2 separate regions of the Homo sapiens genome follow, and region 2 is linked to region 1. The links come from fine-mapping of genetic effects on gene expression. A gene starts in region 1. The other region holds a variant in brackets. All regions are shown on one strand. Distances are from middle to middle. Region 1 holds the start of PIM1 (Pim-1 proto-oncogene, serine/threonine kinase). Region 2 has its middle 75 kb from the start of FGD2.

The links.
Region 2: its variant is fine-mapped to the expression of PIM1 in neutrophils (BLUEPRINT, PIP 0.95).

Annotation. Positions count from the first base shown.
Region 1 is chr6:37,168,855-37,171,354 of GRCh38, reverse strand. PIM1 (Pim-1 proto-oncogene, serine/threonine kinase) reads right to left here and starts at 1,203. Exons shown (of 6, transcript NM_002648.4): 1 at 698-1,203; 2 at 476-582; 3 at 324-374; 4 at 1-230. The coding sequence starts at 779. RefSeq lists silencers at 375-694, 955-1,734 and an enhancer at 1,360-1,958.
Region 2 is chr6:37,079,526-37,082,532 of GRCh38, reverse strand. No RefSeq gene overlaps it. Among named protein-coding and RNA genes, the nearest start is that of FGD2, 75 kb to the right of the region's middle. The variant G/A (reference allele first, on the strand shown) is at 1,334.

The DNA of each region.
Region 1 (2,500 bases):
TGCCGCACGGCCTCCAGCACCTGCCAGAAGAAGCTGCGGGCCAGCTCCTCTTGCAGGGCTCCCCTTTCCGTGATGAAGTCGAAGAGATCTTGCACCGGCTCGGGCCTCTCCAGGATCAGGACGAAACTGTCGGGCCTCTCGAACCAGTCCAGGAGCCTAATGACGCCGGAGAAACCCGAGCTCACCTTCTTCAGCAGGACCACTTCCATGGGCACTCGAGTGCCATTAGGCTGCAGGGGCGAGGGGGCCGCGTTAGGGCGGGAGTCGGGGGCGCCCCTCACCCCACCCACTCATCCTGGGGGTCGCTCCTGCAGGGCACTCACCAGCTCTCCCCAGTCGGAAATCCGGTCCTTCTCCACGTGTTTGATGGCCACCTGGAAGCCCAGGGTCTCCGTCAGGTTCCCTCGTCCGGGCTAAAGCACGCCCGTGCGCCCCCCGCCCGGCGCGCCCTCCCCACCGCGGGGCGCCCACTCACCGGCAAGTTGTCGGAGACGCGGATGCCTGAGTAGACCGAGCCGAAGCCGCCGCTGCCCAGTAGCGGGCCCACCTGGTACTGCGACTCCAGGGGCTCCTTCTCCTTGCCTAGGAAAGGGGGAAGCACGGGGACTCAGTGCCGGCCCGCGAGCCGCCAGCTCCCCACCCAGGAGATCCCGCCGCCGCCCCGCATCCCCGGGCCGGAGGCGGGGGGTGCTCTCACCGGGCGCCAGCTTGGTGGCGTGCAGGTCGTTGCAGGGCGCGGCGCGCAGGTGGGCAAGCGAGTTGATTTTGGACAAGAGCATCCCAACCTCCAGGATGTCGGCGCAGGGACGGTGCCCAGAGGAGCTGCCGCAGGAGCCGGAGCCGGGGCTGTGCCGAAGGCTATGCCTGGGGCTGTGGCTGTGGCTGTGGCTGCGGGTGGCGTTGCGGCTGTGGCTGCGGCTGGCGCGGAAGGCCGAGGGCGAGTCGGAGGACAACTGAGGGCGCTGCCGGGACTGGCGGCGGGAGGGCGCGCCAGCGGGGTCGGGCAGCGCTGAGAACGGCGGGGTGAGCGGCTCGTGGGGCTCGTGCGGCAGCGCCGCGGGGCAGGAGGCTAGTGGTTGCTGCTGCTGCTGCTGCTGCTGCTGCTGCCGGTCCCGCCGCCGCCGCTGCCACCGACTCCTCTCGGGCCTCCTCAGCCACCGCGGCCGCTGCAGCAGACGCCCGGCTCGCCCCGCAGCCAGGAGTAAAGGGGAGGAGCGCGCCGGCGGGGAGGGCGCGCGGGGAGGGCGCGGCGGGCGGGGACGGGGCGGGGCCTCTCCGGGAGGCCAAGGCGGGGAGCAGGGCTGCCGGGCCGGCCGAGGGAGGAGAGGGGGTGGGGAAGCGGCGGGACTGGGCGACTCCCCTCGGCCCCCGCCCCGCGCGCTCTGTGGCCGCGCCCCGGCCCCGCCCCTGCCAGCGCTACTCCAGCCAACCAGAGGCCGATTGATCTGCATAACTCGGCGCGCCCCGCCCCCGCCCCGCCCAGCTCTCGCGGTCAGAATGGTCTCTACGCCGCCACGACGTGGCGGGAAGGAAAAGGCGCCAAAATGGAGGGGGAGGGGCGCGGGGCGTGAGGGGAGGCGGGAGCTGGGTGTAGGGCCGCGAGGGAGGAAGGATGGGGAGGGGCGTATCGATTCAAACCCAAACAATAACAAAGCCATCAAAGGCCGCCCGAGGCCGGCTCTGCGGCTCTCCGTTTCGCTGAGGGTTTTGGGTCAAGGGCTCGAGCCGGAGCATAACAAGTTGCGCGGAGACGACGGGCGTTAGTGTGTCAGGCGGGGAGGCCGGCGCGCCGGGTGTCGGACTGTGTGTGGGGATGCCGACGAGGGTGGTCTTTCTGTGTGACTCAGACCCGAGACCTCCAAGTCGGCTGGGGCGGGCTGACGTCGCGCTGTAGGCTGGGGGCGGATTCTGGGGGTTTGTGTGTTGGGGGGCGCGTCGGGGGCGAAGGATCCGCAGGACATGAGTCACGGAGGGAGTGGAGGAGTCAGGCCTGGAACAGAACTGGAGGCGGGAGCCCCGCTCCTGCGGGAAAGGGATGCAGCCCTCAGTCGTTCCGGCCGGCTAAAAGCTCAGCCACGGGATTCCCATTTTAGAAATGCAAAAGCACCAGCGAATCCTGATTTCTGGGAAGGGATGTGTGTCAAAGGGCCGGGTAAAGAGGAAATCACGAAGCAAATGTTAGTGTTGTGATGCCAGATGCTGCCTCAGCCCCTTCTGTGAGGGCGGAAAATTCCTCATCTAAAACGAGGGTGGGAGGGTGCGCTTGATTTAACCAGTTTTCACGTTGTAGTCACCTTTTCATCAGCCTGTTATTACCAGGCAGGCAATACCAGCAATTATTGGCCAACCCCAAGTCTTGTCTCAAAGGAAACCCCCCACCCTCTGCCTCCCTTGGAAATAACCCGGAACACTGACCAATTCCACTTGCATCCTTTGTCCTTTTAAACTTCATGTAGAGTTGATAACGACGTGTGAAATGAGTAAATTAAAATACTATATA
Region 2 (3,007 bases), 89 kb after region 1:
CAGGGTCTCACTATGTTACCCAGGCCAATCTTGAAATCCTGGGCTCGAGCGATCCTTCTGCCTCGGCCCCTCAAAGTGCAGGGATCACAGGCGTGAGCCAACGCACCCAGCCAGCCTGTGAACTTTTTTAGGAGAAATTTTTATAGCTACAGATTCATAGTCCTTTACCTGAAACCCTTGGGGCCAGATAGGTTTCCGAATTCAGATTTTTTCACCGTTTAGAAAAAAGCCATGGTGCGCACACTGTATATTATGAAATACCCACCGCAGGATCTGGGGCAGCACCTGGTAAACACATAAATATTTTTAAGCAAAGTCCATGAATATTCACACACTAAATGGTGTAAATAAAGGCTGTAAATAGCCTTGCGTCAGTTGGAGGCCATTTTGTTGCCAAATAAGTTCATGTCAGGTTAAGTTCTGCAGTCAAATGTGTTATGATAAAACTTGTTTTATCATATGGTTTTCAGAAGTTCAGGGATTTTGAAATTGAGAATAAGGGATGGTGGACCTGTTAGTTTTGGACAAGCCTTTGGCTGTGTGGGAGACAAATCCCGAGTAGTCTCCCACGCAGAGGGAAGGTTGCAGAAACCCGCTGCCTCACAGGGGTATGGACTGCACTGTCCACCAGGACAGCCTCTCCCAACCACAGCTCTCAGAAGGTCCAGACGTGAACTCCTGACACCGAAGGCACATCTTTGCTGGGTGGGTATTTTCCTGGGATCTCTACCTTTGCTTAGATTTTCAAAAGAAACCTAATACTTAAATACGGTCTAGAGCCCCAGCTAGAAAGAGTCCTTGAGATCAAAGAATTGCTTAGCTAGAGCCCTCAGTTATAGACCTGAGTTTGTTTCTAAGGGACATGAGTCTCAATTAATTGACGTTTCAGTGATTGGCAGGGGAGGGGAGTGAGAAGGGGCAGACATTGGAGATTGAGAGTGTGGAGAAAGATGGGGCAAGAGAAGTTAGGATGAGTGTGAGGGGAGCCAAGAAGAGAATACACACAGGTCTCCATGCAGGACTGAGCACGGGAGAGATCATCCCAGGGGCTGGGGGTTATGTCTTCAGTTTAGGAGCCTGCATGGAGCATCTACTATGTGCAAGGCGCTGGGGATGCAAAGATGAATAAGAGCTGCTCCCTGACAGTGATACCTATTTATGACTGTATTGCTCCTCTCTGAAGAGCTCTCTTTTCATTTCCTCCCTCCCTTCTCCACCCCACCTCCCCACCAAAGAAAACACACACACAGCCAGGAGTGGCCTTGAGGTTCAGGCCACAGGCTCCAGACCTTTTGGGCTCTTTCCTCCACTCCCAATCAAAGTGTCCGGGTCC[G/A]GGGGATCACGTGAGGCCAGGAGTTTGAGACCAGCCTGGGCAACATTGCGAGACCCCATCTCTACAAAAAATTTTTTCTTTCTTTCTTTCTTTTTTTTTTTTTGAGACAGAGTTTCCCTCTTGTTGCCCAGGCTGGAATGCAATGGCACGATCTTGGCTCACTGCAACCTCTGCCTCCCAGGTTCAAGTGATTCTCCTGCCTCAGCCTCCCGAGTAGCTGGCATTACAGGCATGCAAGATCACGCTTGGCTAATTTTGTATTTTTAGTAGAGATGGGGTTTCTCCATGTTGGTCAGGCTGGTCTTGAACTCCTGACCTCAAGTGATCTGCTCGCCTCTGCCTCCTAAAGTGCTGGGATTATAGGCGTAAGCCACCTTGCCCAGCACAAAAATTTAAAAATTAGCTGGTGTGGAGGTAGCACACCTATAGTTCCACCTACTCAGGAGGCTGAGGCGGGAGGATGGCTTGAGCCCAGGAGGTTGAGGCTGCAGTGAGCTATGATCATGCCTCTGCATTCCAGCATGGGTAGAGCAAGACCCTGTTTTTGTTGTTGTTGTTGTTGTTTTCAGACGGATTTTTGCTCTGTCGCCCAGGCTGGAGTGCAGAGGCTCAATCTTGGCCCACCACAACCTCCTCCTCCTGGGTTCAAGCAATTCTCCTGCCTCAGCCTCCTGAGTAGCTAGGATTACAGGCACGGGACACCACATCCAGCTAAGTTTTGTATTTTTAGTAGAGACGGGGTTTCACCATGTTGGCCAGGCAGGCCTCGAACTCCCGATCTCAGGTGATTCACTTGCCTCGGCCTCCCAAAGTGCTTGGATTACAGGTGTGAGCCACTGCGCCCAGCCGACCCTGTCTCTTAAAAAAAATAAAAAATAAAAAACCTGGGTCCTACATCCCATGTTGACAAAGCCCCTTGTAAAGGAAGGAATGCATTCTTTGCTGACAGTAATGTGCAGTTCATCAGGTGATAATGTTGATTAGAGGCATGGAGTGGTGTCACTGGAGTCTAGTTTCTCCCCATTACTTAGTTGTGCGACCTTGGGCAAGTCTCCTGCCCTGAGCCTTAGTTTCCTTATCTGTAGAATGAACTTAAGTCTATACTCCCTGCTTCACAAGGGTGTTGTGAGGATCAAAGGGAAGAATATGGAGGAAGACATAAGTGGTAAGTCTTGCCCATGTCTGAGCTATGCTTGTGATGTGCTTACTGTATTCCCACTTAAACAGGGAAGCTTCATTCTGCACTTTAGCACCTCAGGGATTGTACAGATTCCGTCCCCCTGCTAGGCACCTAGGGGCGCTACAGGGCTGTATGGCCTCATAGGTGACCCAGGAACAGATTCTCTGCACCCCAAATGTGGTTTCACTCTCTGGTTGCAATGGTTCTTTGGAAAATAATAGTTGTTCATTACAGTGTTGTTTATGATAGGCCAAGAAAAGTTATTTTTCACTACAATCCCCAAGCCCAGTGTAGTACAAGTGCTCAAGAAATGGATAAAGACTCACAGACCACACTTCCCATCCTCCTCAATGCCTCCTTTTGTGCTAATGAGGTAGACCCCTTCCCTAGCATGCAAGGATTAAATAAGGAGCTGGGGCAAGAGCCATGTGTAGCCTAGAACCTGAGAGTTTAAAATGGTCTTCAACATGAGCAACAGTCCTATTCCTTGGAAT